4 separate regions of the Homo sapiens genome follow, and all the other regions are reported to be linked to region 4. The links are microRNA targets in miRTarBase. Many come from high-throughput screens and were not tested one by one. Region 4 holds a microRNA gene; each other region holds the end of a gene's coding sequence.

What was found. The annotated mature microRNA hsa-miR-6073 reads GGUAGUGAGUUAUCAGCUAC and lies in region 4 at 1,854-1,873, shown strand. An mRNA with a match to its seed (bases 2 to 7 or 8) in the 3' UTR can be bound and repressed. Matches are read on the target gene's strand: a 7mer-m8 pairs with bases 2 to 8, a 7mer-A1 pairs with bases 2 to 7 and ends in A, and an 8mer does both.
Region 1: miRTarBase lists SNTN as a target of hsa-miR-6073. The part of its 3' UTR that is shown has no 7-base or 8-base seed match.
Region 2: miRTarBase lists FMO4 as a target of hsa-miR-6073. The part of its 3' UTR that is shown has no 7-base or 8-base seed match.
Region 3: miRTarBase lists KIF27 as a target of hsa-miR-6073. Seed matches in the 3' UTR shown: 7mer-m8 at 2,504-2,510.

The regions. Positions count from the first base shown.
Region 1 is chr3:63,663,741-63,666,925 of GRCh38, forward strand. SNTN (sentan, cilia apical structure protein) reads left to right here. Exons shown (of 4, transcript NM_001080537.2): 4 at 197-1,472. The coding sequence ends at 355. Among named protein-coding and RNA genes, the nearest start is that of SNTN, 13 kb to the left of the region's middle.
Region 2 is chr1:171,341,571-171,344,755 of GRCh38, reverse strand. FMO4 (flavin containing dimethylaniline monoxygenase 4) reads right to left here. Exons shown (of 10, transcript NM_002022.3): 10 at 2,672-3,185. The coding sequence ends at 2,917. Among named protein-coding and RNA genes, the nearest start is that of FMO4, 29 kb to the right of the region's middle.
Region 3 is chr9:83,834,415-83,837,584 of GRCh38, forward strand. KIF27 (kinesin family member 27) reads right to left here. Exons shown (of 18, transcript NM_017576.4): 18 at 1-3,071. The coding sequence ends at 2,587. It overlaps LOC101927552 (a long non-coding RNA gene), which reads left to right. Exons shown (of 6, transcript XR_001746793.2): 5 at 1,137-1,291; 6 at 2,616-3,169. Among named protein-coding and RNA genes, the nearest start is that of GKAP1, 18 kb to the left of the region's middle.
Region 4 is chr11:15,968,243-15,971,427 of GRCh38, reverse strand. MIR6073 (microRNA 6073) reads left to right here and starts at 1,807; the gene lies at 1,807-1,895. It overlaps SOX6 (SRY-box transcription factor 6), which reads left to right. Exons shown (of 16, transcript NM_001367873.1): 16 at 1-3,185.

The sequences.
Region 1 (3,185 bases), not on the chromosome of region 4:
CACCACATGCAGATGCCTGATCTTGAACTTTCCAGCCATCAGAATTGTAAGCCAAATTTTTCTTTTTTCTTTATAAATCACTCAGTCTCAGGTATTCTATTACAGCAACACTAAACAGACTAAGACATTATTGTTTATGATCTGTAAACCTAAAGTCTATACAACGAATTCGGTTTTTATTTCTCCATTCTCACAGGGACAAGAAACCAAGCCAAAATACAGAGAGATCCTTTCTGAACTTGATGAGCACACAGAAAATAAGCTAGATTTTGAAGACTTCATGATCTTGCTCTTAAGCATCACTGTCATGTCAGATCTGCTACAAAATATACGGAATGTAAAAATTATGAAATGAACAGTTTTAAATATGCTGTATAAAATAATGGCAAAAGACAGTGTTATTAAAATGTTTCCATCTTATTTTTGATTAATTGAATATATCTATCATGCATCTGAAATTGCCTAGGATGGTTCTGATTGCTGGTATTCAGATCCAATGTAACTCCAAATATTTACCCATACACTTCAAGAATGTTTGAATGATAAGGTCTCTGTGTGCTTTACAATAGGATAGATTTGATACCACTGAATAATAAATGGCTTTTGCTGAGTCAGTAGCGACCTAGAGCACTCTACTTATAGTCATTGAGTCACTCATTTATTCACTAAACATTTGTTGAGCATCTACTTGATGGAACTGCTGAGGATACAGTAATGAATTGGCCAGGCAATTCCTTCCTTCAGACATGTTTGCAGAAGTCTAGCAGAAGAGATAGACATTGAACAATTTTTAAATAATTGCATACACAGTATAATTAGAATTGAAATAAGGGCTATAGGATGCTAAAAGAGATTATCACCTGATCGGAGTTCAAAGGTCAGAAAAGCTTTACTGACATTCTATAAAAAGCAAAAAAAAAAAAATTGGTCCATGGATGCCAGGGATATGGGTGGGAAATGGGGCTGTCCACAAATGGCACAAGGGGAGTTTTTTATTTTATTTTATTTTATTTTATTTTATTTTATTTTGAGACAGAGTTTTGCTCTTGTTGCCCAGGCTGGAGTGCAATGGCACGATCTCAGCTTACTGCAACCTCGATCTCCCAGGTTCAAGTGATTCTCCTGCCTCAGCCTCCTGAGTAGCTGGGATTACAGGCGTGTGCCACGATGCCAGGCTAATTTTTTTTGTATTTTTAGTGGAGACGGGGTTTCGCCATGTCGGCCAGGCTGGTCTCGAACTCCTGACCTCAGGTGATCCGCCCACAGCCTCCCAAAGTGCTGGGATTACAGGCTTGAGCCACCAAGTCTGGCCAAGGGGACTTTTAAGGGGGCTGGAAATGGTCTCCATTTTGATTGTGAGGTGGTGGCTACAAGATTGCATGCATTTGTCAAACTCATAGAACTGCACACTGAAAAGAGTGAATTGTACTGTATGTCAATTATACCTAAATAAATCTGACTTAACAAAAAAATAAAACCCAGTATTCTTGTAATCTCTGAACACAATTTAACCAACAATTCCTTGGGATTATGATGTAAAAGTAGTCATATCCCAGAGACCCACACCGACTCCCATGACCACCTCCTGTATTCCTGAATATAAATTACATACACACATATAGTCAACGCCTGAACCTTTAAGGTAGACTCTCACAAAGATTTTTATTCATGTAGGACCTCACTTGAGGACAGCAGGCCCCAGTAGGGTAGCTCAGCATATGGCAATGGGCACTCAAGGTCCCCAGAGCGGGCACTGGGCAACAGCCAGAGGCACAAGCCTTCATCAACCCTGGCTTTCAGAGATGCCATCTTACTCTATCTTTACATGGGAGTAATAATGTTCCCCCTTTCCAACTGCAGGAACTGAGGATTACAGTAGCTAAATGATGGTCCAGGATCATTGAGGCAATCAATTTCAGAGTCAGAATCCTGGCAGAAGCAAAGAGGTGCCAAAAGGGGAGGAGAAACAGGAGACATAGTTTTCCGGCTTTGATTCCCATTTTGTTCCAGTCACTTGCTAAGTTCCACAATCAGGCAGGCAGTCACCTAACATGTATTGCACTTCTACCGCAGGCTGTTGCCAAGAGAGAGGCAAAGAGGAACGAGTCACAGTCTTTACCTTCCAGGAGTTTATGGCTGGCAAAACATGTATGTAAATGTGGTCTATTGGAGCTATTCTATAATCCTGTCAAATGCATGGTAGGACTTTACTTCTCTGTTTCCTTACAGTTGAGTGTGCCCATCCTTTGACCAGTGACATCTGAGCTGAAGTGAAATATGCCACTTCCAGGTGGAGGCTTTGAGAGCCTGGGTCAATTCACTGCCCTGCTTCCCTGGGCTGTGATAACTGGCAACATGCCCCATGGAGGCTGCTCCTTTAGCCTGGGTCCTGAGGGAGGCCAGTTTAGAGCAGAAGCCCAGACAAACTGATACAGACATCTTGCTGAAGAAAGAAATAAATATTTTACCAGAAAAAAAGACGGTTATTCACTGTAAAATTATTATAACTTCCCAAGTTATCCCTCACCTCTCATTTTCTTCCCAGCCCAACATTGTATGCCTCATAACCTATGTTAAGAAAATCTGCCAGGCACAGTGGCTCACGCCTGTAATCCCAGCACTTTGGGAGGCCAAGGCGAGCAGATCACCTGAGGTCAGGAGTTTGAGACCAGTGTGACCAACATGGAGAAACCCCATCTCTACTAAAAATACAAAATTAGCCAGGTGTGGTGGCACATGCCTGTAATCCTAGCTACTCAGGAGGCTGAGGAAGGAGAATCACTTGAACCCAGGAGGCAGAGGTTGCAGTAAGCCAAGATCGCACCATTGCACTCCAGCCGGGGCAACAAGAGTGAAACTCCATCTCAAACAAACAAACAAACAAACAAAAAAATCCTTTCCAGAGAGAAACCTTCAGCCTTGCTCTGGTGAAGTGTTGCTTCATCCTGTCGTTTTCCAGATCCACCAGAACCCAACTCCCTGGCCCTCCCCACTTCCAAAGCTCAGACATCCTAAATCGAAGAGATTACAGATAATGTAAAGGAAAGGCCCAGAGTTTATCCTCTCACCATTTTAACAGGAGGCAGGAGTGTTTAACAAAAACATTCAAACTCACTTATCTGACAAAAGAAGAAAAAGGAATTAAAGAAAATTTGTTATATGTCCCATTTTCAAAGGCTTCTTGC
Region 2 (3,185 bases), not on the chromosome of region 4:
AAACGATCGTTAACTGGAAAGTGCTGCCAGAGAATCCAGGGAGAGCAAAGGCCATGCCTCCAGATTACACAACAGGGAATGGGATTTGGCAATAGTTTCAAGTCCTTTCTTTAATTCAGAGAATAGAAAATGTCCCCGATTCTGCAGCTATTAGTAGTTAACTTACTTTGGACCAAACACCGTGCATTTTCTCATTAATGTTCACAGTAAGGTAGGCCCTATTATGACCACTGTTTTCCGGATGAGGACACTAAGGCTTAGAGAGGCTAAGTCACATGGCCAAGACTTCATAGCTAACAAGTTGAGTTCTCATTCTCAAGTTAGTGCTCTTAACCAGTGTACTTCGCTCCTGTGCAAGTACTGGACTGTATAGTTCTATTTCTTCTAATTGCCACTTGGATTGTCCTTTACTTATAACATTAGCTGTTGGCGGACTGTTCTTGTTTGTTTGCAAGGCTGAGGTAATTTATCATGTTGGCAGAAGACAAGAATGTAGGTAGAAGAGAGAAAACAAAGAGTGCCAGCTGGCAAGGCCACTGTCGATTCATCAAATACTTCTTTAGCAATGCTTCATATCAGGCAGTGTGTCCGATGAACATGATATGATTCCTTTTAGGAACTCACCATTTGTTAGGTGACAGACAAAAAGAAAATGATACTATAGTAAGAAAAGAGCAGCACCAGAGCATACACAAGGTGCAGCTGCTACACAGGGGTGACCATTTCTGCTTTGGGGATTTAGGGAAGGCTGCACAGAATGAGAGCACTGAGCTCTCTTGAAAGATAAATAGGATCTCATCAGTCAGGCACGGTATAGATTTGTGTGCCTGGCAGAGGCAAGAGCTGATGCCAAAGGGAGGAGTTATGAAAGTTCATAGTTTGGTAGTGCTGGATGGGAGGGTTTGAAATAACAGGCATCCTGCTGACCCAGGCAAAGGGACTCAGACCATGAAGGGCCTTCTATGTTATGCTAAGGAATATGGGACTATTATGTCTTCTTTTTTTTTTTTTTTTGAGAGAGTCTCTTTCTGTCACCCAGGCTGGAGTGCAGTGGTGTGATCTTGCCTCACTGCAACCTCTGTCTCCTGGGTTCAAGTGATTCTCCTGCCTCAGCCTCCTAAATAGCTGAGATTACAGTCACGCACCACCACGCCCAGCTGATTTTTGTATTTTTAGTAGAGATGAGGTTTCACCATGTTGGCCAGGCTGGTCTTGAACTCCTGACTTCAAGTGATCTGCCCGCCTCAACTTCCCAAAGTGTTGGGATTACAGGCATAAGCCACTGTGCCCAGCCAAGGACTATTATCTCTAATCAAGATAGAGAATGAAGGATTTTATATGGGAGGGTGACATGATCAAACTGGATCCCTTTTGTGTGCCTCACCATATATCCTCTCCATCATCTTTGCTCTGCTCTGTGCCCTAGGAGCCTGACCTCTGTGGATAAAATCTGTTGGCAACCTTGCCTTCTGACTTTCATTTGGTTTGGCCCTTGGGGAGCACTAGCAAGGGATCAGAGAGTGGGAAGAGAGTAAGATTAGATAATTTATTCCCCCAGATCTCTACTTTTGTAGTCATCGTGCACCTGCCTTTGTCACTCAGCTGAAGGTCATTGCTCTTGTTAGGTGGCCCTCTACGCAGTGCTTGCTTTTTCTCTTTAGTAATTGCTTTATTCTCTTGCCTCATTAGGTCTATGGATAGTAAAGGTTACAAGTCTGGGAGTGTTTCATTATCTCTATGATCTTCCTACACTCTGCCCATATCTTTTAAAATAATCTCTATATTAAAATTTCCAGGCAGGCATGGTGGCACATGTCTGTAATCCCAGCAACTTGGGAGGTGGAGGAGGGAGGTTTGTTTGAACCCAAGAGTTCAAGATCTGAGATCTAAAAAAAATAGTGAGGCTGGACATGATAACTCATGCCTGTAATCCCAGCACTTTGGAAGGCTGAGGCAGAATGATTGTTTGAGCTCAGGAGCTTGAAACCAGCCTGGGCAACATAGCGAGACCCTGGCCGTATTTTTTTTAAAAGAAAGAAAAAAAAAGAAAGAAAAAGTAACACACTGTCCCTATGAAAACCTTTAAAAACATTAGCCAGTCATGGTCCCAGCTACTCAGAAGGCTGAGGTGGGAGGATAGCTTGAGCCCAGGAGTTCGAGGCTGCAGTGATCTATGTTTGCATCACTGTGTTCCAGTTTGGGTGATGGAAAAAATTTTCTCAACTTAATTTGAATGCCATTTTGTTCCTACTGAGACCTTCCTGGGAATCAGAGGTTCCTATATATTTATAAACCATATATTTACTTTAGAGTAATAAACCATATTGTATTAGTCTGTTCTATTGCTGCTAATAAAGACATACCCAAGACTGGGTAATTTATAAAGGAAGGGAGGTTTAACAGACTCACAGTTCCACATGGCTGGGGAGGCCTCACAATCATGGTGGAAGGTGAAGAAGGAGCAAAGACACGTCTTACATGGTGGTAGACACGAGAGAGCTTGTGCAGGGGAACTGTCATTTATAAAACCATCAGATATAGTGAGACTTATTCACTACCATGAGAACAGTATGGGAGAAGACCTGCCCCCATGATTCAATTACCTACCTCCCACGGCATGTGGGAATTATGGGAGCTACAATTCAAGATGAGATTTGGGTGGGGACACAGCTAAACCATATCATATATATTTATTTTAGAATAATCACTGAGGTAGCAGGGTAGAAGATGCATTGGAAAGGGTGGCAAGAAAGAGGGTACTGAAAACAAAGAAGAAGATAATACAATAATTCAGATAGGAGATGACTGGGCCTGAATTTGGCTAATAGCAGTTATGATGGAGAGCAGAGGAGGGATGCACAAGATACTTGGAGATAGAATTAGCATGACTTTGTGTAACCCTTGTAACAATCAGGTTCATCCTCGCCAAAGACTTACTAGGTAAGGGGACATTCTGTCCTGTAGTTTATCTCTCACCAATTTCAAGAAAAGTGAAGATTTACAGATAAGTAGAAGAGAGGCAAGTAGGACAGGTGCCCCCCAGGCTTTTAAATAATGTGACATGGAGGCAGGCTTGGAGGAATCAGGGACAATTCGAGTTTTTAAAGGTTTCAATGTTCTGTCCCACTGGGTCAGGATGGCATTTCTGGCTCCATCCCATTTTCCAGGGCCCATGAGGCGGTACT
Region 3 (3,170 bases), not on the chromosome of region 4:
TATATATAAAGGATATATGTTTAACCAAAAGGAAGAAAAACACCATACCTTTGTTATTTAGAAATCAACTCACAATTGCATAGTCAAACCTAATCATTGTTGTTTTGATATAAATTTTCTTGCTTTATTAGTGAGTTGGCTTTGAGGAAATGTGTATTTCCACAGGTAAAACAAGTATGTGTTAATTTCTTGAGCAAGTAGGATTCCAGTATCAGAATACATTCTTAAATGAATTATTCCTAAATAACGCATAGCACATTACTTAATCTTATAAGGAACTTATTATTAGGATCTTCATTAATAAATATTTATTTATAAATATTGCTGTGCTTGCTAAGGGCACTGACCTTTGGCCATTATATATATCTATATCTATGTATATATACAAGTGTATCTATATATACATTATAGCTATATAATGATATATCATGATATAAAATATGATATGAAATAATATAAAGTGAAATAATGTAAAATGTATAACCTATATCTATATACAAGTATATATATAATACTATATATATACAAGTGTTTATATACAAGTATATATAATGGTAAAAGGTCAGTGCCTTCAACAAAGCACAGCAATAATATATTTAAATAAATATGTATTTATTAACAAAGATCCTAATTATAAGTTCCTTGTAAGATTATGTGCTATGCCTTAGTTAGAAATAATTAATTTACACATACTTGTTTTACTTATGGAAATACAAACACATTTCCTTATATACTTGTATATGTACAAGTGTATATACATATATATATATGAAATATATATAATAATGGCAAAAGGTCAGTGCATTTATACATATTTATAATGTGTATGTTTTACCTTTGGTTTGTATGATTTATATTTATATATAAATGTACATAAATTTATAAAAATGGAAGACTAGCTGGAAACCAGAATCTGACTTCAAACAGTTCCTGGTAAAAATAAAATTTCCCAGTTAAGTTTGTAAATTAGTTTTTTGAAATTTAGAAAATAGTATCTCATTGGACCAATATTTATAAATTGTTTCATTCCCAGGTAAGTCCACAGAAATCTATTTAATTTAAATAAATTTTAGTACCATGCTTAAGAGATATTTTCCTTTTTATAAGTTTGTTTTGTTTTGGTTTGTTTCCTAAAGGAACTGGTTTTTAGCAAGGAGACCAAGAAACTCTACTCCCTAGGGGCTAGCAATGAGAGAAAGGAAGCCTTAAGTCTTTGAGCACAGGGTGACAGTTTGGGTCCTATGTGAGATGATCAAATCCACAGCAACAGAGGAAAGGACAAAAGGAAAAGGTCTGTAGCAGCACTACATCAGAAAAAAATGGATTCAGCAAGGAAGTGGGTGACTCTGAGTAAGCATCCATGTCAGGATGGTTTTGCTACAGCCCCCAACAAAACATTAATTAGTTTAAGAAACTCAACTTCGGTTTACAAGTGTTTTGGAAAAGTAACAAAGAACAACATAAGTAACAAAATAATTCCTCAGGTCATTACAATGGATGTTTCCTATAACTGAAAAATATGGTTAAAAAGTACAAACTACATTTGGTGTGCAAACTGTTTAGTTCTTAATTCCAAACTAAATTGTACATTATATAGTAAAATTTTGACCAGAAAAACTTGGAGATTTTAGTAAAAATTTCATTGACATATTTACAGCCCCAGTGTAGTTTGGCCGGTGTGCAAAGCCTGACTAAGGAGGTTATAGAAAAAAATATCAGACTTAAGCCCATCAAATCATTAAAGATGCTTTGGCAAGACTTCAAGCTTTACAGACATACTCCATGTGACCAGAGATGTCATAACCAGTGTTCTTTCTCTTGAAATGTTAGAATGCTTTAGTTTTATTCTATAATTTCCGTGTTCCATGGAACAGCATTCATTTCTCCCAGTTTTAGTAACATAATGAGAGATATATTGAGTGTATAGAGCAGGAAAGACATGAAAACTTATATTGCATAATATTAGCAAACATAAAAGATAGCATTATAAATTTTTAAAAATCCAAAAAAATTCCAGAAACAGAACAGTGAGCATGTTTAAAAAGTCAGGACTGACCGTTTCTGTGAGTTCTGAGGACTGTAAATGAGCCTCAATCCATAAAGCTGAGAGGTTGTCTTAGCCCACATATGCAGCAGGTGACTCCCTCTGACAAAAGCAAGATTTAGCTGGATCTTTTAAAAAAAAAATATACTTGTATTTGAGAATAACAATAATATAGTTATATTGTAACATACTTTTATGATGTACATTTATATTATATAATAATACATACTTGATAGATATTTTAGTCTATTACTAGTTTTAATCTTCAAATATGCCTGGAAAAACATTTAAGCGTATTTATAAATATTTAAATGTTATCAAGTATTGGAAAACATGTTTGATTACTATGGGAATATAAACTAAAACTCCCCAAATATATATAGAAGATGTACACATCTATAGCATATAAAAGAATTAGGGATTCCTTCCTCCCCTTCTTCCTTTATTCTGAGGAAAGAGGTAGTGAACTTGAGCTTTAGTTTTTAACAGGTTAGAAAAAGGAATCTTTTTACATATCTACTAAAAGTTCTATTATTCAATGTCTAAGTTTTTAAGTCCCTTGGTTTCCTAGATACTTCGATGGAATCAGCAGCCATTGATCCAATGCCAACTCCAAGACTGGAACGTCGCAATGATAGTTCCAAGGCGGAAATTTGACGTAATTCTTTTCGACACAGTTTTACAGGTGTGACACCATGAAGTCGTCCCACATTTCCCACAACCTGAATTTGGGATGACAGTCGACTGTGAGATTTTGTAAACTGATTATCATCTGTTTCTGTTTTATTCTCATTACCTAACATATGCCCACTGGGGGGTGCTAAAGAACTATGAATTGGAGGTAATTCTGGGATATCTTCCCAGAGCTTTTGAGGATTTGGCTGTGTTCTTAAGCTGCTTGCTGAACTGTCCATTTCTCTTTCTCTTCCACTTAATTTCATACTTTCAGGTCTGGATGCCCATTTTAATTCTTCTGAAAGCATGCCTCCTCCTTCTGGCTTCAGGACTCCATCTCCAGCCTCTTGATCTAAAAATAATCCCCAAACCAAAAAATTAGATACTATTTCCTCAAAATTAGGTATTTTAATCAAAACATCTTAACATAAATACATTATTATCACCCAAT
Region 4 (3,185 bases):
CCTGCGGCCAAACCTGAAGCCCAAGGCTCGTGGGCCATGCAGGAATCTCAGTGAAGCTGTCATGGGCTGGCACCTTTACACTGAGTTGCCTTGTCCCAGCTGGCACATCTAGGGAGTTCATTGCAAAATCCCCAGGATGCAAAAAGCCACATGACAGCCTCAGAGCAAAGATGGTGGCAAATAGTCATGATACATCTAGAGAATGAAAGAAAACTGTAAGGGAGGAGAAGGAGGGGAATACATTCCCTATATGGGATGTTCCTACTGTTAACTCTGGGGAACAGATAGCTCCGGGGGCAGCAGATGAGTTCCTCTGGCTGACTCTATCTGTAGCCACATGGGGACCTGCCTACGTGTGAACAAAATGAACTGCACTTATCACACAAGGATTTCTTTGAAGACATGCTACTGGGGTGGGAAGCAGTGAGGTTTTATTCCCCATCTCCTAACTACAGGGAGCTCTGCCATGTCATTTTGGCCTTCCTGAAACTAGGACAGGTTGTCTATCGGGGGGCTTCCCCCAGAGAGGTTTAGTGGGAGAATGTCAGTGAATGGGATAGTTCACCTCATGGGACAACCCAGAATCTGATCACCAGGACATAGGAATGGCCCCATCAGATTTCTTGAGCCATTTTGTCACTTGGAAGAAAATAGTGTACCTTTGTATTTATTTAAGAGTGCTCAAGGCCTAATAGCAATAAACAGGTCTAGCCAAGAAATTACAAGCTATTCTGTTAGCTGGGAGTGCTCTCTATAAGCTGATTAAGGTACTGATAGGAACTCTTTGTTATTCATGTTGGTTGGGGATTAGAAATTTGTTTTTGTACATTTATTTCAAATGAGGAGGAGGTCATTTTTTCTCTCAAAAAATGAGTATTTATTATTGTCTTACTGATTTCTTTGATTATATACCTCTCCTCCTCAGTTCACTCTTGTTTTTTTTCTTTCTCTTTGGCTTTTGCTTTTGCTCTCTCTCACTTCTTTCTTATTTTGTTGCATTGGTAGAGTGTTGTATGGCTAGCATTGTATTGTATGTAATTAATTTTGCACAAAAGCAAACATTTAGCATAGTAGGTTAATTTTGTTTGTTTTTATGACCATGCCAAAATAATATTCTGGGCTGGTGGAGAACAAAGGACTGTTCTTTAGGACTGAAACTTGATTTTGCTCATAGTAAGTAAAAAAAAACAAAAAACACACACACTCACAGATGTTGTTTCGTAAGTGTTATAAGCACTGGATATAAATGGTATTTTTTATCACTTCTGACTAATGTGAAACTGTTGTACGAAAACTACATGAACAAAAGTCATCTGTTTCGACTCGTGTGGGCTTGCCTCACAGTTGCCGGATTTGAGTCATTTTTATGTCTTGTTATTTCATTTATTTATGCAAAATACATGTGTGTATGAACACTTTGTTTTAGCTCCAGCTCTGCCTCAGTACTGGGGTTCATTTACTTTTAGCCATGTTCTTAAAAATGAAAGGCTATTCAGGAATGATCTGATTGTAAACGTCTTTTTCATTGGATCAAACAGTAATGCTGTATTTGAATCTAAATTTTGTGTATAAGCAGTTTATTTATTAGCCAAGTTTGGCTCTAAATATCCATGGAAATTAAGAATGACAATCATAGGGATCAATTCATTTTATTTTCAGTGGGGCTTAAACAAAGTTTATATGACTTTACCATCTCATTTTAGATTTTTCTAATTGTGTAAATATAACATAGAAATAGAATTTATTTTTGGTTCATGAATACTTAGTGAGATATAAGTTATGTATTTCCTTTTTGTTCTCTATCCATAGATGTTGGTCCAAACTGAAAGTTGATGAGTCACTGTGCCTCTCGGGGTAGTGAGTTATCAGCTACAGTGAGAGAGCAGTGTTTGGCCTGCAGCTGGGACAGCAAAACGTTTCACCAGGGTTCTCATGCAGTTCAGAACCCACTGTCCACAGATCCAGACATTTCCCTTTTTTCTTACAGAAAGTTGATGATTGGACATACTAAATTTCCACTACAGTTAGGAGACAGTCAGTTTGCTTTGGGAGTCTACATAAATCTTCTAAGATAGTTCTGTGACCATTTAATAGCAAGAAGCATGAATGCCACTACAAAGGCAAAAATCCACCTCTGAGATCGGCCGTTAATAAACGTCCCGTCATGTCAGTTTAGATTCAAGAATGTTAAGCAACTTTGTTTTTGCGGTGCTCCCTATTTCATAGTATCTTCAAATCAAAAATAAAAATTATCTCCATTTTGTTAAAGAACTTACAGGGTCAGGGTTCTCCTTGTCACTTAGAATTGGGACACTGCCAGGCAATCCTCTCCCAAAAAAAAAAAAAAAAAAAAATAGCCATATGGAATGGAAGGAAAAGGAGAAAAGAAGGAAGAAAGGAAAAAAGTAGGAAGGGAGAGAGAAAAAAAAGGTCGCTTTGCGGATACGAGCCGCTAGGCTGACAACTTTTCTATTTCATTGGCAGATATGAAGCAGTGTCTTTTCCAGTAAGGTACGGAAGCTTTGTTGTTTTCATGTGTACCCAGCTCAGCCTTTTAGAAGCACCTCGGTTTGCTTCATTAGGTATTTGATACTCTCCAGCCTTGTCCTCAGGCCTGATTTGATTTGCCAGGGTCCTGACACCAAAGCCCAGGCCAAGTTCTAAATTCAGGTGTGGGCTCACAGTGCTATTGAGCTTGTCGAATTCTGGCCTCCCCTGAACATTAGCCCCACGGGAGCCTGAGGGTGTTTGAAAAGGGCGTGATCACTCTAGGGCTGAAATTAAAGGCTGCTTTCTTTTCCTTCTGAAGCCAGGCTGCTTCTTCGGAGTACACCCTCCTGAGCCAGGAGCACAAGCACTAGCAGAAAGCAGGGATTGTTTCAGGAAAGCCCATTTACCCTCAGTAGGAAGGCAGCCTGGTCACTTGAACAGCACAGCTGAGGCTGCTTCTCTCAATTTACTCATTTTGCAAAGAATTGACCTCTACCAACTCATTAGGGAGAGGAAAAAGAATCACTTAGTAATTTTAAATCATATGAGAAGTCCTGTACCAAGTGCCAACAACTGCAAAGAAATGCAGCTAGAGGAATGTATTGAAATTACTACTGGGTCTTCCTTTTTAATGAGAAAATGACAAAAATGGTTGCTGTAGCCCTGCCTGATTTTGTACACGTTTGTCTAAGAAT